3 separate regions of the Homo sapiens genome follow, and all the other regions are linked to region 2. The links come from fine-mapping of genetic effects on gene expression. A gene starts in region 2. Each other region holds a variant in brackets. All regions are shown on one strand. Distances are between the middles of the regions.

Region 1 (8,174 bases), 20 kb before region 2:
AGTATTGTGGTTATTATATCTCACTGTGTCTCCCTCCTTTCAGATACACACAGAGATTCTAAAGGCACAAGCCAAATCTCTGGGCCCAGGAAACCAAGAGGCTAGGAATAAGCACCTATAAGGAAAGTCTTGGAAACCTAGACATCTGAGGGTCTTTCAACCCAAGTTCCTTAGGCCTTTACGATTCCAAGGACATCTAGCATGCTTCAGGATTGACTTAAAAAAAAAGTTCCATGGACTTCTGGTCTCCTCTGCCCACACTGAAGGATGGACACCTGGCCTTGCATACAAACTCAGAAATGCCCTGTCTGTAGCCCTATTTCTCTTAATGATCCCCTTAGAACTCTGTGGCCTAGAATTCACATACACTCCTAATTCTGCTTAAGTTTGTAGCCTTAGGAAAATGAATCTCACACAGTTCCTAACTCCTGGCTATAAAGACTGTGCATTTTCTTGGCCTGGGGCTCTTTGCTCTAAGCTTCCAAGAGAGAACACCTGTTTGTTAGTTTTTGTTTTCTATTTTTCTGAGATGGAGTCTCGCTCTATTGCCCAGGCTGGAGTGCAGTGATCTCAGCTCACTGCAACCTCCGCCTCCGGGTTAAAGTGATTCTCCTGCCTCGGCCTCCCAAGTAGCTGGGATTACAGGCGTGCACCACCATGCCTGGCTATTTTTTTTTGATGGAGTCTCACTTTGTTGCCCAGGCTGGAGTGCAGTGGCACGATCTCGGCTCACTGGAACCTCTGCCTCTGGGGTTCAAGCGATTCTCCTGCCTCAGTCTCCTGAGTAGCTGCGATTACAGCCACATACCATGACACCCGGCTAATTTTTATATTTTTAGTGGAGGGGGCGTTTAACCATGTTGCCCAGACTGGTCTGGAACTCCTGACCTCAGGTGATCCACCTACCTTTCCTCCCAAAGTGCTGGGATTATAGGCGTTAGCCACCGTGTCCTGCCTGTTACTTTTTTCACTATGTTGGCCAAGCTAGTCTCAAATTCCTGCTCTCAAATGACTTGCCCACCTCAGCCTCCCAAAGTGCTAAGATTACAGGCATGAGCCACTGTGCCCAGCCAAGGGAACACCTGTTAAATCCATTCATTCAAAGTCATCAACTCATACTATGTCTACAGCATTGGTTAAAATTAATAGTAGAACCAATACCACTATTGCTGTTGCTACTACTGACAATAGCAATAACATATGGCACTTTCATTCAGAATGAAGGATACTGTTTATTGAGCATTTACTATGTGCCAGACACTATGCTAAAAATGATTGCTTTTCATCCCTGTTTTAATCCTGTTTTGGTGTGCTCATCTTGCAGGTGAGAAAACAGATTTGGGAAGGTGAGGTCACACACCCTAAGTGACAGAGCCCATTAAGCGACACAGCTGAGATCTGAATCCAGGCTCTGTGTGCCTCCATTTTTTTTTTTTGACATGGAGGCTTGCTCTGTTGTTCAAGTTGGAGTGCAGTGGCATGATCTCGGTTCACTGCAACCTCCACCTCCTGGATTCAAGCAATTCTCCTGCCTCAGCCCCCACCAGTAGCTGGGATTACAGGCGCACGCCACCACACCTGGCTAATTTTTATATTTTGAGTAGAGACGGGCTTTTGCCATATTGGCCATGCTAGTATCAAGCTTCTAAACTCAGGTGATCCACCTGCCTCGGCCTCCCAAAGTGCTGGGATTGCAGGTGTGAGCCATGGTGTCCGGCAGGGAGGAACTTTTTTTTTTTTTTTTTTTTACGGAGTCTCGCTCTGTCACCCAGGCTGGAGTGCGGTGGCACGATCTCGGCTCACTGCAAGCTCTGCCTCCTGGGTTCACACCATTCTCCTGCCTCAGCCTCCTGAGTAGCTGGGACTACACACGCCCGCCACCACACCCGGCTAATTTATTTTTTTTTGTATTTTTAGTAGAGATGGGGTTTCACCGTGTTAGCCAGGATGGTCTCGATCTCCTGACCTCGTGATCCACTTGCCTCAGCCTCCCAAAGTGCTGGGATTCCAGGTGTGAGCCACTGCGCCCAGCCAGGGGGGAACTTTTTACCCACAACCTTTTATCTCTCCAATCCCAAGTCTCTCTTCTTCCCTGGATTTCCAGATCCCCTTCAGCATCTGCCACTCAAAGCTAGGAAACCTCATTCCCTTGTCTGTCTTCACTTGAACCGACTGCCAAGATTATGAAGCTGTCCTTCAGGCCATCTCCACATCTAAAGATCATTTTCCAAGGCAGAAAAGGCCTCACTGAAGTCACAGAACTTTTGTCTTTCCTGCCCTCCCAACTCCACCTGGCACTGGATCAAACGATAAGAACTCTGTGGTACCCTGTTTGATAACTTAGTCCTGTAGTTTTCAGTTCTTGATGAGAAAGAAGAAAGACAGTGATTCCCATTAGGGACAGAAAGTCAAGAATGAAAATAAAAAAAAATAAAAATAAGTCAAGGATATGCACCCCAGTCAAAAACACACAGTGGCCTGGGCAGTATGCTTCCTCCTCTGTAAAGTAAGGATTATAAAGCTGCTGAGAAGATGTAGGGAGATGATGCATGAAAAGCATCTGACAGAGTGTACTCATAGTAAACATTCAGTCTGTGGCTCAGTGACGGGTGTTTTCCTCTCTTCTCCAGTAGTCGAGTCAGCCTGCCCCTCCAGCCCTACCCTGACATTCTCAATCGCTGTTGTTTAGGCCTTGCAGCATAGCCAGAGGCATCTGGGACAGAGAGAAGCCTTGTCTAGTCCTTTCCCCACTCCAGAGTACTGCCAGGACCCCAGGGCTAAGGGACACAGCTTCTCTGGTACTGCCAGGGGACATGACAGAACAGCCCCAAGGGTTGGGCTCAATGCAGGACCTTGTTCTGCTGCCGAGAAAGGGGAGAGTGGTTTTGGACAAATGGAGGCTGATTCTGGGGAAATGTGTGTTCATGTGTCTGTGTGGTGGTGGTGGGGAGGGCGGGCCTCCCATGACTGAGAAGCATCAGTGAGCACTGGAACTGGCCCAAGTAATTTGTGCAGCCTCAGGCCCCTTGGGGTGAGCCCAGCTGGGGCTGTAAATAATGGGTGGGGATGGAACTTCTAGTTTCCTGCCCAGATCAGAAAAAGCCTGGCCCAGAGTGGAGGCACAGCAGAGGCCCAACGAATACCTGCACAATTGAACCCAGATGGTCCCCTGGAAGGTAGTGGTGTACTCTGTCTCAGGTCCTAGCAGAGTATACTAAGTAAGAGCACAAGTTCAACAGGCAAACTTGCTGGATTCAAAATCTAGCTCTGCCTCCATGACCTAACTCAATATCATTGTGGGCCAGTCCTTTAACCTCTCTGATCCTTGGTCTCTTCTGTAAATGGGGACTGTAAGGCCTCTACCTCACAGGATTGTTGTAAAGAGTCAATGAGACAATCATGCAAAGCGTCTGGCATGTGGTAAGTGCTCAAGTACATTTTAACTATTATTGTTGTTGCTCCTCGTTGAATCTAGAGCCCATGCTGTTTCAGGGCTGGTGGGAACAGTTCATGTACAAAAGCACATCTGGGCCTTCCCCTTAAGATTCCCGACAGGGGTGGGGAATTTCATACAGTTATTTACCAAAAACAGACACATCTCTGATTCCTTGGAGCTAGAAGTACAACAAGCAATGATGAAATTCTGGAGGTGGGCAGATGGGGGAAGGGGCTGGGGAATGCCAAGACACCAACGGCTGCTTCTCACCAAGCTGCAAACTTGGACTCTGCAAACATGGAGAGGTTGAGGAATGCTGTGCGTATAAATGTCCTCCCTGGCTATAGTGGCAGCAGGGCAGAGCTGGCCAGGTGACTAGAGCTAAGTAGGTCATGACCCTGGGTCCTGGCAAATTACAGGCACCAATCGAGACTGCTCTAAGAGCAAACCCATTTTTATGTACTGGCCTGGTGCAACAATTGGAGTAGCCTCAGGCACCAGTCAGAGGGGCTAGGGTTTGGCTCTAAACATGACCTTCTCTGCCTCACCCCTGCTCACATGGACACAGGGGAGGGCAGGGGGCTCACATTTTTGTTTGATGAACTGTCAAGCAGAGCCTGAAAGTGGAGGGTGGAGGACAGGGCTGAGCTCTGATGACTCACTTGCC[A/G]TTGCCCCTCCTGACCTCAGTTTCCCCACCCAGACTGAATGAGCCAGAGAGGGAGGAGTTTAAACCTGCTAGATATGGGGACTGACTCAGAATAGGAGGTGGGAAGAAAATGCAGGAAATGTCTCCCAGGAAGCTACAGGACAGTGGAGGGAAGTGGAATTCAGCTCCCCTGACCCCCCTAGTCTCCTTCCTCCTGTCCATAGGAACAGCCTTCTGGTCCAAGTCAGCATCAGAGGAAAGGAGAGGACCAGGGTTATTGTTCTAGCTCCAAAGAGGCAGGGAAGACAGCACCTGGAGAACAAACAGGGATTACAACAAGGGGTAACCTGGGACCTCTTCTTCCCTGTTCCAGAGACCCTTGGAATATTGCTTTTCTGTTTCTAGGTGTTGCGCCTCATGTCCTACTTCCATGAAACTGATGCTGGCTGCCTGTGCTGGAGGACTTCCCTATACCTTCCCAGCTGCCTGAGAGGAAGCGATGACCTAGGCCAGGCTTTCCACAGCTATAAGCCCCGACTCCCCACTTCTAGTAGGTCACACAACAGTATCCTCACCAGCTTCCCGGGCCTACCCAAAATCAGCGTCAGCATCAAGACAAGTGGTTCTCCACTGGGTGCACCCAAGAGTCAACCAGGGAGCTTTAAATCTCCAGGGATAGGACCTGGGCTTCACATTATTTTTAGAAAGGCCCTGGGGGATTCTAACACAAAGCTAGGGACATATTCACCTAGGTCAGCTCTGTGCTACCTGATCTATCTGAGCAGGAAGCAGACAACTGGGCAGCTCTGACCCACACCCAAGGTCTCCCTGGAGAACTGGAGGAAGTACTAAGGTTGGTTCGGTGGGACATGGAGATACAACCCACAAAAAAGCAGGGGATCTACCTCACTGTTCAGCTCTCCAGGTTTGAAGGGACCAAGCTAAAGAAGGGCTTGGAGACAGGCAACTTTTTTTTTTCTTTGAGACGGAGTCTGGCTCTGTCGCCCAGGCTGGAGTGCAGTGGTGCGATCTCGGATCATTGCAAGCTCCTGTGCCTCCTGGGTTCACGCCATTCTCCTGCCTCAGCCTCCTGAGTAGCTGGGACTACAGGCGCCCACCACCATGTCCGGTTAATTTTTTTGTATTTTTAGTAGAGATGGGGTTTCACCGTGTTAGCCAGGATGGTCTCCATCTCCTGACCTCGTGATCCGCCCACCTCGGCCTCCGAAAGTGCTGGGATTACAGGCGTGAGCCACCGCGCCCGGCCGGGAAGACAGGCAACTCTTTTTTTTTTAGATGGAGTCTCACTCTGTTGCCCAGGCTGGAGTACAGTGGCGCAATCTCGGCTCACTGCAAACTCCGCCTCCTGGGTTCACACCATTCTCCTGCCTCAGCCTCCCAAGTAGCTGGGACTACAGGTACCCACTACCACGTCTGGCTAATTTTTTGTATTTTTAGTAGAGACGGGGTTTCACCATTTTAGCCAGGATGGTCTCAATCTCCTGACCTCATGATCCGCCTGCCTCGGCCTCCCAAAGTGCTGGGATTACAGGTGTGAGCCATGGCGCCCGGCCAGGGAACTCTTAACTGGGGACTAGTGAACCAACTGAACTCAAGAGTTGGTTTGTGGAGTAGGTGTGCATCTTTTTGGGGAGGGTGGGGAGGAGGGGAAGATTTTCTAACTGGTCCATCCCGCTAAATATTAAGAACTCTTGCCCTAGAATAATGTGCTGGGCCTCTCCCAAAAGAAAGTAGTATGCTTGGCTGTGGCTCTGTCTTCTTTGGCACATTATTTCAGAGCCCAAGAAGTACCTGGAAAGTACCAGAACAACCCCCTCACTGTCCAAATGGGGATCCTGAGGCCCGAGAGGGTCAGGCAGGACTGACCCAGGTCACAAGAGGTGTTAGTGGAGAGCTGGATCTACAACTCTTGGGTGTCTCATGTCTCACAACAAATGAATCATCCAGCAGGGCATCACCTCTCACACTGCCTGGTGAGCAGAAGAACCTGGGTACTCGTTCCCAGGCCCATACCCTCAGGATTCTGATTTAGTAGGTCTATGGGGGGCAGAAATCTGGATTGTAACAGTCACCTAACCCCAGTGATTCTGATGATGATGCAAGTTTGAGAAACACCAGGGAATGGGAAGGCCATAATAACCAGAGGAGAAACAAGAGTATGAACAGCTCCTTCTTTGAGGCAGGTCTCCAGGCCCAGAAAGTAGCACCTTCCTTTACAAATAAGGCAGGTGGGGTTCTACTTGAGGGTAGGAGTGAAACAGGAGGCACCTGCTTCTTAGTCTTAGAGCCCTCAGGTCTACTAGAAAACAGGCATTCAAGACTCTACCAGAATTTACCTCTGTGATCACTTCTCTTTCAAGTCATGCTTTGCTCCAGTCCTGGCAGGCTTCCTGCTGACTCTGGAACACACCATGGCCTTCCCTCATTCTAAGTTTTCCTTTCCTCTCCACCCATTTAAGTACCAGCTTGTTATTCTCACCATCTGATATGGGGCTATGGATAAAAACCTTGATTCATATATTCATTCATCATTCAATTCATTTCACAGCACTTCTCAACCCTGGCTAGGCATTACCACCAATATCCCACTGCAAACCATCTGGGAACGGGCCTCAGGTTATTTGTATAAAATGCAGCATGTCTTTCAAGGGCAATGTGGTGAGAACAAATATTTTATTTTATTTTTTTATTTTTTTTTTTTTGAGACGGAGTCTTGCTCTGTCGCCCAGGCTGGAGTGCAGTGGTACAATCTTGGCTCACTGCAAGCTCCGCCTCCCGGGTTGACACCATTCTCCTGCCTCAGCCTCCCGAGTAGCTAGGACTACAGGCACCCGCCACGACGCCCGGCTAATTTTTTTGTATTTTTAGTAGAGACGGGGTTTCACCGTGTTAGCCAGGATGGTCTCGATCTCCTGACCTCGTGATCCGCCTGCCTCGGCCTCCCAAAGTGCTGGGATTACAGGCTTGAGCCACCGCGCCTGGCCTGGAGAACAAATATTTTAATTGCATACACCTTTAAACTAGCAGTTCTGCAGAATCTGAGGAGTTCATCCTAGAGATGTTTAAAGGGTACTCATTACATCACTGTTTGTAAGATGAAGACCACATGTACCATGTGGAAGAGTCTATTGGTCAAGAGCTCTAAAGAACTCTGAAGTCAAATTTGAACTCTACCTCTTATCAATTGTGTGACCCACAGCAAGTCATTTAATATCTCCAGACCTACAGTCTCCTCTGTAAAATGGGGGAGTAACAGGGGAGTACAGAGTTGTTGTGAGGTGTAAATAAATACTTAACGAGAAACAGACGTATGTGCTGAATACGGAATGATCTTCAAATCATATTGGTAAGTGAAAAAACCAAACTGGTTAATATGCATGTTTGGCCATATGTATTAAGACAAAACAATGACAAAGTTGGAAGGAAAATATATATGCATTCATATATGCAGGGAATTTATCTCATAAAACATAAGGAAATGAGAACGTGAAGTCTGGAAGAAAAACCTCACTTTCACCTTTTGTACTATCTGATTTTACTGCAAGTTCTGAAAACAAAAGCAAAAACTAAAAGCACTGAAATTACTAAGTACTACTGGTGATTCTGATATACAGCTAAGAGTGGCACCCAGAGGTAATCCAACTGCCTGCTCAGGATGGGACAGTGGGGATGTGTGACGAAGCTGTGTAAGACACTGGCCTGCCCCACAGGAGCCCCCACTATAAAGGCAGAGTCATATCACAAACAGAACTCCTGCCTTTAGTGTTAGAGTGGTGGGGAGTGTGGCAGGGGTGAGAAATGGCTGAGCTCCGAGCCTGCTGCAGCTGAGCTGGGTTCTTATTGCTCTTTGTCTAGGACTAAGAACTTACTGCCAGACTAGGAACTAAGCTGATGTGACCCCTGGCCTGAGTAACCGTCTCCCGCTACAATCATGCTGCTTCTGTGACTTCCACACAAAAACTCAGTAAAATAAGGGTGACTGTTGCTAAGGCAGGTGGGCCTGGGGAGATGAGGGAGGCCAGGCAGCTGTGTGGCTCCCCAAAACCCAATCCTAGCAGTCCATGCTTGTTT
Region 2 (8,174 bases):
CTTTCCAGTAACAAAAGCCAATTAATCCCCCACTTTTTTCATTAAACCACTTTGAGCTAAGGTTCTATCACTTTATGTTTTTAGAGTTCTGGCTGATATGAGCTTTTTTTTTATTTTATTGTTTTTCTAACATTGCAATTATGGGCAAGACATTGTTCTAAGTACTTTACATGTATTAACTTATTTAATCCTCGTAACAATTCTATGAAGTAAAGTATCATTATTTCCTTCATATTTTTAGCTGTGGAAACTAAAAGACCAGGGAAGTAACTCGTCCTAGGGTACAAAACTGGTGAGTGGTAATGTGGGATACAAATCCTGTCCAGACCCAGGGTCTGCATACCTAACAACTACTGCCCCATTGCAGCCAAACCTATCTTAACTAAAAATCAAACTTTTTGACCCAAGGCACTACCATCTTGGAATGGACAGTGCCCACAGACCCTCTATTAGTCCTACCTGTTCTTAATCTCATCATATGCAAAATGAGGATAATGGTAGTTTACTTACCTCATAGGGTAGGTAAACTCCTACCTCCTATGAATACATGTAAAGCACTTAAACAGTGCCTGGCAGTTAGAAAGCATTCAAAAACCAGTGGTCATTATTATTATTACTCTGTAGGTCACTAAAGTGCAGCTGGCAAATACAATGCAAATGGAGGAAATCTGTCTTCTTTCATCTCTATCTTTTGGGTGAAGAGAAGAGATACCATGGGTGAGAGATGAGGAGGCTTTGTCTTTGACCCATTGCTTAAGCTGTTTCCTCTGCCTGGGGGCACCATCATTGTCCCAACTCCCATGGAACACTATCCAGCCCAAATACCACCTTTTCTGTGAAGTCTTTCCAAATAAAAGGCTCCCTCTCACTGCTGAATTTCTACAGCATATAATTTGTACCTCATTTTCTGCTCTGTACATGCCCAAGCCCCCTACTGGTATTGTGAGCTCCCTGAAGGCAGGCCCCAATATTTACCCTGGGGTCTCTGTTTCCCCTTCTGGGCCCTAGAAACAGAATCCCTTGAAAAAATGCCAAGAGCTCTGTGGAGGCTCCAGACTTAGCAGCTGAGAGGGGCTGCTAAGAGAAGCCAACCAGGACGGGTGAGGCAGGTCACCAGGCAAAGGACTTGGGGTAGCTCAGAATCAGGAAACAGCACAAAGAAAGTCCCTAAGACAGGAGCAAGTAGGGCAGGAGTAAAGGCAAAGGGTGCTGTGTGGAGAAAAAAAAGGGAGGTGAGAGGAGAGGAGGGGGCAGGGAAGGTGTACTAAACCTGAATGAGGAGTGAGATCTGAGGAACTTGGAGATTTCTGGCCAAATGCAGAAGGAAGAGCTGCTTATTCTCCAGTGATTTCCAATAACTTACAAAGAGTAGATCCCACCTTGTGGGATTCAGAGAAGAACAAGACACATCCCGTACTTTCAGAGTTCCTAGTCCAGTGAGGGTGAGTGGACAAGTACATTAAAATCTACAAGGTTGAAGGTGAGTGGTGTTCTAAGAGGTACAATGGAGGTGGAGGGGTCTTGGCAGTAAGACACAGAATGAAAAGACCTCCTGAGGGTGCCTCAAGGGGAGGGTGCCTATGTGAAGAAACAGATGGACAAGAAGAGATGGATATGTGTGTTCAAAGAAGCAGCAATTTAAAGAAGCACCAAAGGCTGGTAGTGGGCTGGAGGGGTAGCCAGAAAGAGAAAGCACTGAGGAAGATCTGAAAAGAAACCATTCAAAAGTAGAATCGGAAATAACTGCTCAGAGGATGGAGTAACCTTGTGGAGAAGCCAAGATCCTTTCAAGGTAGGTAAGAAATCTTTCTGGAGGATGGGTACTTCATAAAGGGGATTCCTAGGAAACAGGAAAGCAGCAGTGGGCAGTAGGGCACAGAGGCATACCCTGAGGCATCTTTCAGGGGGCTTTTAGTGAGGAAAAGGAAATCCTCCTAAAGGGCACAGGTTCTCAAACTTGCGTGTGCATCAAAATGACCAGGAGGGTTTGTTAAAAACTCTTGATTGCTGGGCCCTGCTCCCAGGTTTTCAGTTTCAGTAGATCTGAGTGGGATTCAAGAATGTGTATTTCTAACAAATGTGGCTGCTGCTGGGCCAGGAACCACACTGAGAACCACTGCTATAGGGGAAGGGATTATTTGGTGAGGAGGTCCTCAAAGGGGAGAAGGAAGAAGGCTTCTGAAAGGGAAATGGGGAGAATCCTAAGTCTCTAAGGAGGGTGTTAAGGGTCTCTTGATCTCTGAAGGGAAGAGGGGTCTATGAGCATGGCACCTAAGAAAAATGGTCTGAAAGAAAGATCTCGGAGCACTGGGATTTCAAGGGGGCGGGGAAAGGTGTCTCTCAAGAATCTTTACAAGGAAACATAGAGGCTCTTGGGCAACGAGTCTGGAGAATGTTGGGGACCTCTGAAGGGATAATGGGAAAAGGGGGCCCCCTGAGAAAGGTCTCTGAGTTGACTTCAGAGGAAAGAGAATGGGGAAATGAGAGGGTGTAAATAGCAATTCTAAAGTTAGTGGGTAAATCTGATAGGGTCCTAAATAATGTTTCTTGGGGATGTCAGAAGTGGAATCTGAGGGAAAGTTCTGAGGAAGTCTCAGGAAGCGCTGGGAGTGGGTGGCTGATGGAGGGCAATTTGGGAGAAAATTCTCTAAAAAGTGTCTGAGGAAGGTGTGGTCTTCTGAGACTGGTCCTGGAGTGGGATGACAGAGGGATGTTTTTAGGAAAAACTCTTCAGAGATCTCAGTTGAGGAGAAAGCTGAGTAAAGTCTCCAAAAGAGTATATGGGGAAGGCGGGGTCTTCTGAGAGAGTGTCAGAGGAGAGGGTTTTTCAGAAAGAATTATAGGACTTTCTCAGAGCAAGAGCTCGGGTTATTTTGGGGGAAAATTAGGTGTGTGTGAGGGTCTTCTTCAAGGGATTCTAGAGGATTTAGGGGACCTGTGTGAGCAAGTTCAGGGAGGGATATCTCTAGAAAAGTCCCTTAGTAAGGCAGAAGTATTGATTCAAGGGGTTCTGGTGGTGTCAGGAAGGTCTTGGAGGGATTTCAAGAACATACGTCAGGAGGGCTCCAGGGGGTCGCTGGGGTCTCTAAGCTGTGTGTGTGTGTGGGGGGGGGGGGTCCTGAAAACCTGCATATCAGAGGGGTCACCAAGAGAATCTTACGGTCTTACAGGGGTTGTGAGGAGGATCTTCAGAAAATTCCTCTAAAACCGGTCTGCAAGGGGGGATTCTGAGGTGTTAGTGAAGGGGAGTTCTACGGGATCTGAGAGAAAAACCATGAGGAAAGTTTTCAGGATCCTTAAACAATTTTTGGAGCGTGTGATGTGGGGGACTGGAAAAGATGTGGAGTATGTAAAAGGGATTTTGGAAGAAGCTTTTGGAATATGATGCTGAGAGTCCTCTGGAGATTTCAGGCAATTGCTGGAGATTTTTAGAATGAGTGGGGGTGGGGAAGGGGATCCCGGTGAAGATCACTGGGCTACATGAGGGTGATCTCTAGGGCATTTTAGGGTGGTGAGACCAGGGGGAGACAGGAGGCCTCTGGGGGAGACTTTTGGGATCTGTGGAAAGGTCCAGAGGGATACGTGAAGGGGGAGTGTGTATGAGAGATGGTTGCAATACGGTGGGGAGGGGGATGGAGTCTTCTAGGTGAGTTTTTGGGATCTGGGGGCATTTCACAAAGTCTGTGAGGAAGATTTATTTTGGGGATATGGGAAGGAGATCTTCAGGGAAGATGATCACGGTCCGTCGGGGGCATTCTGAAGGACTTCTGGGAGGGGGAATCAGAAATGCAGGGGGTATGAGCGGAAAATCTCCAAGGAGGTTTCTGGAATGGGGTAAGTGGGAGGGAAAATTCTTAGGATCCGGGAGGGGGAAGTCGGGTGAGCCTGTTGGGCTGTGAGAGGCAGGGCTCCGGGGGAGAGTTCTGGAATGGACAGGGGTCCGGAGGGAGCCTTGGGGAGGTGTGCAGGGCTCGTGAGGGAGGCTCCTGGAGCAGCTATGAGAGCCACGCTGTGGAATGGACGAGGAGTGGCCTCCGAGGACTATTTCTGGAGACAGGAGGAGGACGGGGGCTTCGGGGCCAAAGGGCGGGGGTCTGCGAGGAAAGCTGCTGGGACCCATGAAGGGCTCGAGGAGGCGACTCCACGGGAGGGGTGGGTTTTGCGGGGACCTTTCAGGGCGCACACGGGGGATCGGCAGGCTTTCCGGGGCTCTCCGAGGGGGATGTGCGGGGGGTCCTGAGGAGAGGCCCCCGGCCCGGCCCCTCGGCAATCCCGAGGGCATGAGAAAGATTTCGGAGGGAAGCTTCGGCCAGGGCCCAGGAGGGAGACTGGGGACGGGCGCGGGGCTTCTCCCGTGGGGCCCGGCCCCCCGAGGCCCGCGTTCCGCACCCGCCCGCCGCCGCCGCCCGCGGTTCGGGGTCCCTGAGGGGGCGGGGCCGCCCGCGCGGCCTGGGTCGCCCTGAGGGGAGCCCCGCGCGCCCCGACTCGCCGCCGCCCCGCGCCGGCCCGGCCCGAGACTCACCGCCTCGGCCTTCGCCGCCACCGCCGCCGCTCGGGCCTCCTCAGGCCACCGCCGCCGCCGTCGCCCCCTCTCGGGCCCGCAAGCTCCCCTCCCTCCTCCCGCACCGACCACCGCCGCCGCCGCCGCCGCCGCCGTCGCGCTGCGTCACCGCGCCGTGCGTCACCGCCCCTGGCCCCGCCCCGACGGGGGCCGCCGCGCGCCGGCATTAGCTCACGCCCGGGTGACGAACGGCGCGCCAGCCAACGGGCGGCGAGGGCAGCCCGAAGGGCGGGAGGTGTGAGCCGAGTAAGGCGGGGTCGCGGCGAGGGGGGAGCGACGGTGGTGGAACGGGGCCCAAGAGGCCCGCCCCCTCCTCGGCGGGATTGGTCGGACGTGGGGGTGACGGGCAGTCGGCCAGGCCTGGGGTTTGGGGCTGGGGGGCGGGGAAGGGGCGGGGCGCGCGGGGCGTTGCCCAGGGCAACGGGCCCGGCGGAGTCTGAGGTTGGGCCTCCAGGCCCGCAGGGGGCAGGCTCGCGCGCGTCCACCCCAGCTGCCCCGAGCGAAGTCACAGTTCCTGATTCAGGCGTTCCAGGCCTCCTCTTCCCCGCCCCTTGGGTGGCCCGCCTCACCCAAGGCTGTCCTCAGTGGGCGTCTGCACTCGGGCTTCTGGGCGCTCGGCTTTCTCATCGCGCTGTTCTCAGCCTTGCCGCTTGCTCTCTCCGATGGGAATGGCGAGGCGAGATCTAGCCTTTAGGGTGGGAAGAGAATGCACAGAAAGCGCTAAGGATCAAGGAGGCTGTCAATAAACGGGAGTTGTTGCTGTGACTTTGGTTGTGATCTGTGCGTTCCACAAACTGTATTGGGTCCGGGTGAACTAATCAGAGGGACCTGTGTTCAGAAGGCTCTCGGTGACAGAGATCTGGCTTGTTACAGGCACTTAGAGAGGCAGTCGGGATGGAGGGTCGAGTTGAAGACAGGGAGGGGTGAGGAACGAGCAGAGGCCAGTTGTTTGGCCACTTGAGGGAGTTTGGACTTGTCCCGAGGGCACTAGGGAGCCGTGAAGGGCTTCAAGCCGGGGAGGATCATGGTGAGTCTGGGGTTTTGGAGAGATGTCTCTCTGGCTTATACATGGAGGGCGGATTGGAGGGAATGAAACGGGATCGGGAGTCCAGGGAGGCAGCTGGGGGAGGGGGTGGGGAAGAAAGAGGGGGTTTGCACGAGGGAGGGACTGTGGGGAGGGAAGGAGGTGCAGGTGGGAGGGACGCCCTGGAGGCAGAGCGAACGGGCCCTGACACTGGCTGGCTATGGAGTGGAAGGGGGAGAAAAGTTTAGGACCAGGCCCCTCTAGCCGGGAGACTGGGCGCCAGAAGCAGGTTGGGAAGATACTAAGCCCAATGTGGATGCCTAGTAGCGAGGTCCAGGAGGTGCACAAACCCTGGGTCTGGAGCTTAAGGGAGAAATTGAGGCTGGAGACCAAGATTTAAGGATCGTCAAAGATGGTAATTGAGGCTGTGGGAGTTAGGGGTCTAGCCCGGGGAGGGTATGAAGGGTCACTGGAGACAGGGACTGAACAGAACCCTGAAACAGAGAGGCAGGATTTGAGCAAAGGAATTGACGCTGTCGATGAATATTGCAAAAGGCAGCCAGAGAGAGGAAAACCAGGAGAGTGTGGCATTATAGACGCTTTGAGGAAAGGCTGTTTCACCAGGGTGGGGCCATGTCACAAACCCCATCCACTACCTCCTGCATTTAAGCAACAGCCTTCACACTGCATAGAATTATTGTGCTCATTAACTGCTGGTTCATTAATTCATTCAATAATATTTCTTGACTATCTAATATGTGCCAGGCTCTGCTTAAGGTGCTAGAAACACAACAATAGGATGAGCGCGGTGGCTCACACCTGTAATCCCAGCATTTTGGGAGGCCGAGGCAGGTGTTCGAGACCAGCCTGACCAACATGGTGAAATCCCATCTCTACTAAAAATACAAAATTAGCGGGGCGTGGTGGCACATGCCTGTAGTCCCAGCTACTTGGGAGGCTGAGGCAAGAGAATCGCTTGAACCCGGGTGGCGGAGGTTGCAGTGAGCCAAGATCGTGCCATTGCACTCCAGCCTGGGCAACAACAGTGAAACTCCGTCTCAAAAAAAAAACAAAAAAAAAACAAAAAGACTTACATTCTAGTTCTTGGGGACACAAACAATAAGGAAATACAGTGTAACTTCGTGATAAGTACCAAGGAGAAAAAGAAAGCAGTGGCTGGGCATGGTGACTCATGCCTGTAATCCCAGCACTTTGGGAGGCTGAGGCTGGTGGATCACTTGAGGCCAGGAGTTTGAGACCAGCCTGGCCAAAGTGGCAAAACCCTGTCTCTACTAAAAATGCCAAAAATTAACTGGGCATAGTGATGCGTGCCTGTAGTTCCAGCTACTCAGGAGGGTGAGGCAGGAGAATCACTTGAACCCAGGAGTCGGAGGTTGCAATAAGCCGAGATTTGCCATTGCACTCTAGCCCAGGTGACAGAGCGAGACTATGTCTCTAAATAAATAAACAAATAAATAACAAGAAAGCAGCTAAGGGAATGGAGTAATGCAGCCAGAATTAATTTACATGGGGAAAGGCCTCTTTCATTAGGTGAGACTGAAACAGAAATCTGAAGGAATGAAGGAGAAAGTGGGTTCCAGAAAGAGAAAACAGCAAGTGCAAAGGCCATGTAGTAGGATCATTCACAGAACCACAAAGGGGCCAGCATTGCTGGAGTGGAGTGAGCAAAAGAGGGCAGTGAAGGACAAGGTCCAAGAGGCAATGGGGTAGGGGTGGTGACAGATAACTTAGTATTTTAGTCATTGTTGGTGTGTGTGTGTGTGTGTGTGTGTGTGTGTGTGGGGGGGGGGGGCAGGGTCTCACTCTGTTGCCCAGACTGGATTGTAGTGGTGCGATCGCGGCTCACTGCAACCTCGGCTCACTGCAACCCCTGCCTCCTGGGTTCAAGTGATTCTCCTGCCTCAGCCTCTGGAGTAGCTGGAACTACAGCCGTATGCCATCAAACCTGGCTAAGTTTTGTATTTTTAGTAGAGATGGGGTTTCACCATGTTGCCCAGGCTGGTCTTGAACTCCTGGACTCAAGTGATCTGCCTGCCTCGGCCTCCCAAAGTGTTGGGATTACAGGCGTGAGCCACTGCGCCTGGCCTGCTGTTTGGTTTTTAGAGATAGGATCTTACTCTGTCACCTGGGCTGGAGTGCAGTGGTGTGATCCTAGCTCACTGCAGCCTCAAACTCCTGGGCTCAAGTGATCCTCCCAACCTCAGCCTCCCAAGTAGCTGGTACCTGGGATTACAGACACATGCCACCATGCCCGGCTACTTTTAAAATTTTTTTGTAGAGACAAGGTCTTGCTATGTTGCCCAGGCTGGTCTTGAACTCCTGGTCTCAAGCAATTCTCCTGCCTTGGCCTCCCAAAGTGCTGGGATTACAGGCATGAGCCACTGTGTCTGGCCCATGGGAGGGTTTGAGACCAGCCTGGCCAACATGGTAAAACCCTGTCTCTACTAAAAATACAAAAATATGGCTAGGCGCGGTGGCTCACACCTGTAATCCCAGCACTTTGGGAAGCTGAGGTGGGCTGATCACGAGGTCAGGAGTTCGAGACTAGCCTGACCAACATGGTGAAAC
Region 3 (8,174 bases), 36 kb before region 2:
CTGTCTTGAGCACAGTCTGGGCATCTGCCCTGGACACTGGGCAGCCCCCAAGGCTCCCTGATTGAAGACCTGCTCTGTACTTGGTGCAAAAGCTAAATCAAAACCCTTCCTGTCCCCACTTGGACCTGCTCCTCTGGGCAGGATTCAATCCAGGCAGGCCAGGCAGGTGGGGGCAAAGTAGGACAACCACCATGGGACTTGTCCTCAAACCACACTTCTCAAAAGGGCCTCCTATTCGGGCATCTGGGAAACCACCCACCTCCCTGGGCAGACCTGACCTCCCTCACTACACTGCTTAAACCCTTCCCTGACTCCTCACTGCCATCAGGACAAAGTCCGAGCTGTTTACCTGGATTTAGACGACCCAGCTCCCATCTCCACCCTCATCTCTCATCACTGTTCCCTCTGAACCCTGAGCTCATGTCGTATCAGATCACCCAATTGTCTCTCCTTAAAAAAAAGAATTTTTTTTTTGAACTTGGGCAAGACCTGTCTCAGATTGCTGACTGATGAATAACATCAGCGTCCTTACACATACAGTTGGGAGGAGTCAATCAGTGCAGGAGAGCTGTCTGACAAAGCCTGGGACACAGCATGCTGGTAAAGAGAATGGTTCTTGTTCATTCCTGCGGTTCATCCACCTGCTTGTTTAACATCATTTACAGATGCCTACTGTGTGTCAAGCCCTGTGCTAGGATGAACATGATGGATGGGTTCCCACGGCCTCAACAGATGGCTGTCTACACAACCTCATCAAGTAAGACTCCTGACTGACTTGGCAGTTTATGACATGAATTCTGCAAATCCATGCTCTCTCTAGAGTCAGCCCATTCCAGACGAGCCTTATCTGTCTCTGCAGCCCCAGTGGCCAGCACCGTGTGGAGGAGTCAACCCCTCACTTGTTGAGCAGGGCAGGGACCTGCGGTTAGCAAGTCTCTAATCTTCCTTTTGCCCACTTGTCCCAACATCTTTTTGAGATGGGGTCTCACTGTCGCCCTGGCTGCAGTGCAGTGGCACAATCTCTGCTCACTACAGCCTTGACCTCCTGGGCTCAAGCGATCCTCCTGCCTCACCCTCCCGAGTAGCTGGGACTACGGGTGTGTGCCACCATGCCCAGATAATTTCTGTATTTTTTTGTACAGATGGGGTTTCGCCATGTTGTCCAGACTGGTCTCAAACCGATCTACTTGCCTCAGCTTCCCAAAAGTGCTGAAATTACAGGTGTGAGTTACTGTGCCCGCACTTGGCCCAACTTCTGCTCTCCCATCTCCAGGATGGTCTGTAAGCAGAGGTCAAAACAGCCCTCTCACTTCAAACACCTGTTCTAAGAGGTGAAGTCCACTGGTTCCTGTGTGGTCACCTGGCATCTGAAAGAATCCCAGTAGGCTGATGGGCAGGACTCCCCTCCACAGAAATCTCACACTTTAACTGTCCCATCCCCTCAACCCCTTCTAAGTTGAGTATTCAATGATCCTGTAAAGAAAGAGATGATGACAAAGAGCAACACAGACACTAAGATTATGACATAGGGTGGGAAACATGAGATGGGGTAGGAGTAAGGGGTGAGAGATGATGACTCAGAGGGGTGGGGGCAAGACCTGAGAGATAAAATTGAAGCAGAGGAGGAAAACAACCCCCCACAATTGGGGGAGATGGGTGCAGAGTGGTGTGAGGTATGGGGAGAGGTGCCAATGCAGTCTAGAAGAACAGTGGACATGAGACCCAGGAGAAAAAAGAAAGGTCAGCTGAGGATGTTGGCCAGGCAGAGTCCCAAGGGTGGGGCACCTCACCTGGAGGGAACATGAGAATGGCCTGGGGTGACGAGTGGACCGGGAGCGAGTGGGTGCGCTGCACAGAGCTGCGGCTCTGACTGGGCATGCTGTTGCTGCCTCCAGGGTTGGCAAACCACAGGTTCTACACAGGTCCCAGGAAGAGAGAAAGTAGTGAGTGCAGAAGAGGCCCAGACCCAAGAGTGGTGGAGGTGGTACAGGCCTTCTCCCACTCCCACCCCCGCCACCTCTAAGCTGGGTCCAGACACAGAGTATACAGGCAAATAGACATCCCAGGTACTGCCACCCCAACCCCAGGAGGCCAGGCCCCTGCTTCCAGCCAGCTTACCTGTCGGCCCTGGCCTCCAAGGCTGGGGCTGGTGAGGGCATGTCGAGGGGAGACACCCCCAATGCCCGAGGGGCTCAGGAGGCCCATCCGGCCGGGTGGGAGGGCCCGGGGAGGCATTGGGAACTGCCGCTGGGTACGCCGGGCCACTCCCATCCCCACAGAGCCAGCTATGGGGAGCGAGTTGGAGCCGAATGCCCAGCTATGAGAGAGCAGAAGGCAGGGTGTTAATTTACATAGATGGGGCCTATCTGTCCACCCCTTCCTCACCTTCCCCAACAACCCCAAGTTGTAGGAGAGAACATAAACCTCCATCACACATTCTGTCCTCATCTGCCCCAAGGGTACCCCCTGGAAGGAGATGGGACATGTACAAGGGTTTCTTCACTGTCCACTCAAAACAGTTCTCCAATCTTCAATTCTCAAAGGAGACATTTCTGTTATTTGTCTGGTCTAAGGAGGGACTTCCAGGCCCTCTGCATACAGGCGAGGAGCAAGGTACATATGAGGGGCCTGCTCATGGGACATGTGTTGTTTTTCAGCTCAGCATCCTATTCTAGTGGAAATTTTCTTCTGGGAAAGTCGCCCAGTGACTGAATAAAACTAGATTCTCAGCCCAGAACACAATCACCCCTCTAAGCACGATCTGCTAACCAGCAAAGGCCTATGGAGGGCAGGTCCCTGTAACCTGGCCACCCGCCTACCCTTTCTGCTGCCGGTAGTTCTGCATCTCTAGTGCGGCTTTGCGCGGGAATGTCCGGAGGAGCTTCAGCACTTGCTGTTTCCAGGATAGCAGCCGTTTCTTCTGCGTCTCCGTGAAAGCCTAGAATTGGCAGGACACCGGTGAAGCAGAGAGGGTGATGCTTCCTTCAGACCTCCCTTCCAGTCTTCCATTCATTTGTTCAAATATTTATTGCCTGGCCGGGCGTGGTGGCTCAAGCTGTAATCCCAGCACTTTGGGAGGCTGAGGCGGGTGGATCACTTGAGGTCAGGAGTTGGAGACCAGCCTGGACAACATGGTGAAACCCCACCTCTACTAAAAGTACAAAAATTATCCAGGCATGGTAGTGTGTGTCTGTAATCCCAGATACTTGGGAGGCTGAGGCAGGAGAATCACTTGAACCTGGGAGGCGGAGGTTGCAGTGAGCCGAGACTGCGCCATTGCACTCCAGCCTGGGCAACAGAGCGAGACTCTGTTTCCAAAAAAAAGATTCATTGCTCATCTACTCTGTGCCTGTGCCAGGCAATTCTGGGATGCAGAGGTGACCATGCCCAGAGAGCTTACAGTCTGGTTGTGAGGGAAAGATACATACATGATGATAACTGTGACAAATTATCCCTCCCTGAGGGAGAAGAACAGGAAGCAAAAGAAACTTAAATAAAAATGAGGGGTTGGTAAAGGTGTCCCTGAGGTATAAATGTTTGAACTGACAGCTGAGGGGTGAGGAGGAGGAAAGGGTACTGTTGCTGACAAAAGAGTATGTACGGGCTGGGCATGGTTGCTCATGCCTATAATCCCAGTACTTTGGGAGGCCAGGGCAGGGGATCGCTTGAGGCCAGGAGTTCGAGATCAGCCTAGGCAATAAAGCAATACTCCATCTCTAAAAAAGAAAATCGTCACGCCTGTAATCTCAGCACTTTGGGAGGCTGAGGTGGAAGGATCACTTGAGGTCAGTTCAAAACCAGCCAGGGCAACAGTGTGAGACCTCGTCTCTATTAAAAAAAAAAAAAAGAGAGAGAGAGAGGAAGAGTGTGTACAAGGGTTCTGAGAAGAAGCCTCTAAAGCCAACACTGGTAAGATACAAGACTGGAAGGGCTGGCATGTGCCACGTCAGGTAAGGCCCTATGGGCCACATACAACACAATGGTCTTGAGAAAGATGGGGCAGGCTTTCCCTCACTCTGTCGTCCAGGCTGGAGTGCAGTGGCGCGATCTTGGCTCACCACAAGCTCCACCTGCCGGGTTCACGCCATTCTGCCTCAGCCTCCCGCGTAGCTGGGACTGCAGGCACCTGCCACCACGCCCGGCTAATTTTTTGTATTTTTAGTAAAGACTGGGTTTCACTGTGTTAGCCAGGATGGTCTCGATCTCCTGACCTCATGATCCGCCCGCCTCGGTGGCCGAAGTGCTGGGACTACAGGCGTGAACCACCACGCCTGGCCGCCTTTCCCTTTTTGAGTATGCTAGGGAAGGCCTTACCTCATGAGTCAGGCACTTTTCGATGAGCTGGAGGTAACTGGTGATGTTCTCCTCGTCTGGTCGGGACACCAGCAGTTGGGTGCACACTGGGGGGACATGAGAAAGGGCAGGAGGTTAACCCCTAGTATGCCCTCTGCCATGTTCCAGCCTCCAGCTGGCTCGTGCACAAGAAGGAACAGGAGACTCAGGCTGGATGAATATCAACTATTAAGTGCTAGCCATGGTAT[T/C]TGGGTTATCATGAGGATATACAACATAGTGCCTGACACAATCTTGTCACTACACACATTTTTAGCCTTAGAAACCTAAAGCTCAGAGTTGAGTCACTTGCCTCAGGTCCAGATCCAGATCTAGACTGATCTGGATCCAAGTGTAAAGTCTGCTGTATCATGCTGCTTTAGGAAAGGCTGAAGCTGTGATAAATTTCACCATCCCCATCCCCTGGACTTTGGTCCCCTCTGAGAGAAATCAATGGACTCCCCTCAACTGCTCACCCTTTACTACATGGAATTTCTTCTGACCCACTGCCCCATTTCTGCTCAGCCTGGAGACGCTTTGAGGGGAAGGGCTGTTATCCACCATCAGCCCAGACGTGCCCAAGGGCAAGGGGCCTTGTCACCCTGTCTTGGCTACTCTCTGTAGTGTTCCAGTCTCCAGTAGGCTTTACAAAGCCCTGCTCCCACCATCGAACTTGGATTTGATCCCTGGTGCTTGGGTTCACTTGGCTTTCTGCCTCAGGATTTCCTGCTAGGCTGTGGCTGGTCTCACCTTTGCCCATCACCCGTGTAAACTGGCTGGGGATGTCTCCGTCGGCGACGGGAGCCGGGGCAGGCTCACTGCCATCAGTGGGAGCTGGAGCTGGTGGAGGTGGGTAGTTCTCCACAGCTGGAGGGTCCTTGGCCTCGGTGCCTTTGTCTGTGCCGGGGTGGGCTAGGGGAGGCTCAGCACCTGGCAGCGGTGGTTCCCCCGGGGCCCCATCCTTGGCAGTAGGGGTGGTGGTGGCGGCAGCCACGGTGGCCTGGAGGACACTGTAGGCCTTGATGGGAGTGATGATGATCTGCTGCAGCTCCTGCAGAGCGTTTCGTAGGTTCCCGCCTTCCAGCACATCCTGGATGGGAGGACACAGGCTGGGGTCACATGCAGACCCTACAATGAGGGACAGAGAGTATCTACACAGAGAGTCAGACAGGGCTTGCAGAAGGCTGGGTAGGACCCTGGGTTCCAGCACATAGAGAAGGCATGTAAGGGTACTGCAAGCCCACAAACATATAGGTACACATTTCCTCTTTCCCATTAAGATGAAGTCCCACAGAACTCACGAAAAGCCAGTCTAATGTTGGAGTCTCAAGGACCCAACAAGGATAGAATCAGAGATTCAGACCTAGACACTGAGCAGGGAAAAATACAAACAGAAGGCAGTGGCAAGGAAACGGAATCAGATGTGGAAGGAAAATGAGTTTAGAAACAATCAAATGGAAAGAGAGATTGTACAGACAGAGACACTCTGCTCTACCAGAAAGACCAGTAAGAAATGGAAAAGCAAAAGGGGAGAGAAGGTGTAGAGTCAAAAGACAGAGATCCTGGAACCACAAACCAGGAAAGACAGGGAGGGGAGACTCTTAGCCACCAGCAAGTGAGCCTTTTGATGCCGGCTTGCATGTGGTCCCTGAAGTCTGGGTCCCTAGGGCTGGGAATTTTGGAGGCCACATCCGAGGAGTCTGGAGGCCAACTCAGGGCCTTTGGTCTACTGGTACCACCAAGTGGCTGGCTGGCCTTGAAGATGCAGAAACCAGGTCCTCACCTTCTCTAGGGACTTGAGGACGCTCTGTCTCTCACGCAGCTTCTGGATGCTCAGGGCTATCTTGTGGCGGGCACCTTTGGTGACGTTCTGTGATAAGGGCAGAAGGGGACAGGAAGCTAGAGATGTGAGGCTGAGATATTTGGGGGTACCCAAATAGAGATCAAGGAGACAGAGGAGGCTTGGGCTGCAAGGATGCCAAACTAGCGCTGCCCCCAGCACCTCCCTGATGGTCCCCTTGGCTTCACCTGAGACTCCAGGTGCTGCTCAGTCAGTGTCATCATCTCCTCGTAGCTCATCTGTGAGAAGAGGGCTGCATACTTGTGCAAACGGAGGCTCTTGAGCCATGAGGGCACATCTTTGGCAAAGGAGGGAGAGTGAAAGGTCAGGAGTTTGGCCCAGATTACCAGGGTAAAGGAAAAGTTGTGGGGATAAACCCACAGGAAGCCTCAAAAGATGCAAAAAATTGGGAGGGGGTTGGGGGGAGCTAAGGTTCCATCAGCTCCTTCTTCATCTGCCTAGCCAGACCCTCAGGCAGCCTTCCCTGGGAAGGACATCTGACCCTTCTAAGCTGCTAGGCTGGATGTATACCAGGATGACCTCACTGATTGCTCCAAAACTCTTGCTGGAACCTCTGTTCCATCACTTAGCTGTGTCCTGGCTTCCTTGTCAGACTGGGGTGTGTGAAGACAGGGGGCTCCTTCCCAGTCAGACTAGAACTTGTTAGGGTAGATGTGGGGTCTCTCTGCTTAGTCCTGAGCCCTAAAAGCAGGGACTATCTACTCCCCTCAGACATGTCCCCTCCTCAGAGGGGTAAGCAGGTGTCAGCTACAAGCTCCTTTCTGTCCTCTAAGCTCTGCAGAAGCCCCTGGAAAAGGGTCCTGGTGCTGCTGTCCCCAATGTACCTTTCATGCCACTGCCATCCTCCTGGAAGGTGTTCCGGCTGGAGCCCTGCTCCTCTGTCTGCTCACTGCCAGAGGAGGCCACGCTGCTCTGGGGCGAGAGAGGTGCGTGATCGGGCGTGGTAAAAGCAGCCCGGGCCCCAAGCTCCTCTGGACTCGGCCACTCACCAGGGACCTGGGGGCTTGTAGGGATGAGTGACATGGAGCGCTTCAGTGGGCTAGGGTGGATTTGGCAGGGGAGACCTGGCCAGAGTGGGAGAAAAGCAAAATATTAGACCTGGGGACCCAACCACAGGAGACCATCCCCCTGCCGTCAGTGCCAGGATGGCAGTTTGGCCCCATAACCTGCCAAGAGGAAGGGACCTGGGGTCCAAGGGTAACTGCCTACCAGATATACCTCATTCTCTTACCTCCAACACCCAACCCATCAGCAAGCTGTCAGCCACTTTCCTGAATTTCTCCAGTTCCGCTGGCTCAAGCCACCAGCACCCCTGGCAGGAATTACTGCCACAGCCTCCTCATTGGTTTCCTGCCTTCACTCTTGCCTCCTACAGTCCACGCCCCTCACAACAGCCATAAAGGTCCTTCTAAAAATGCAAATCTGACCGAGCCTGACTCCTGCTCAAATCCCTGTGACTTCCTTTCATAGTGGGAACAAAATACAAATGCTTCCACATGCCTAAAAGGCCATGCAGGACCTGGCCCCTGTTCCTCTCCCACAACCCACCACTTGGTTCATGCCTCTCTAGCCTTTGCCTCCTCCCAAACTCCCCTTTGTTCCTGAAACACTCAAGGTTGTTCCAGCCTCAGGACTTCTGGACTTGCTCTTTCTTCCTACCTTCTTGATCTCAGCGGTTGGCTCCCTCAAGTCTCATCTCAAGTGTCGCCTCCTCTGAGGCCTACCCTGAACCCTTAATCTGAAGTCACTGCCCACCTCTGCTGCCCCAATCCGTCACTCTATCACATTACTGTCTTGTCTTTCTTACAGCACCCATCACAACCTGAAATTATCAAGTTATTTGTTTATTTTTTTAAAAATTTATTTACTTTTTTGAGATGGAGTCTTGCTCTGTCACTAGGCCAGAGTGCAGTGGCACGATCTGGGCTCACTGCAACCTCTGCCTCCTGGGTTCAAGCAATTCCCCTGCCTCAGCCTCCCGAGT

What was found. PIP is the estimated chance that this variant, and not a neighbour inherited with it, causes the effect.
Region 1: its variant is the best candidate, but not a certain one, in a credible set for the expression of SAMD4B in visceral fat (GTEx, PIP 0.54).
Region 3: its variant is the best candidate, but not a certain one, in a credible set for the expression of SAMD4B in whole blood (INTERVAL, PIP 0.63).

Annotation. Positions count from the first base shown.
Region 1 is chr19:39,358,817-39,366,990 of GRCh38, reverse strand. The region is part of intron 3 of SAMD4B (sterile alpha motif domain containing 4B); the gene reads right to left. Among named protein-coding and RNA genes, the nearest start is that of SAMD4B, 20 kb to the right of the region's middle. The variant A/G (reference allele first, on the strand shown) is at 4,104.
Region 2 is chr19:39,338,925-39,347,098 of GRCh38, reverse strand. It overlaps SAMD4B (sterile alpha motif domain containing 4B), which reads right to left and starts at 4,678. Exons shown (of 14, transcript NM_001384574.2): 1 at 4,523-4,678. RefSeq lists a silencer at 4,560-4,989.
Region 3 is chr19:39,374,730-39,382,903 of GRCh38, reverse strand. It overlaps SAMD4B (sterile alpha motif domain containing 4B), which reads right to left. Exons shown (of 14, transcript NM_001384574.2): 5 at 7,015-7,254; 6 at 6,358-6,467; 7 at 6,113-6,199; 8 at 5,080-5,419; 9 at 4,315-4,400; 10 at 2,820-2,938; 11 at 2,119-2,317; 12 at 1,791-1,914. Among named protein-coding and RNA genes, the nearest start is that of PAF1, 12 kb to the left of the region's middle. The variant T/C (reference allele first, on the strand shown) is at 4,542.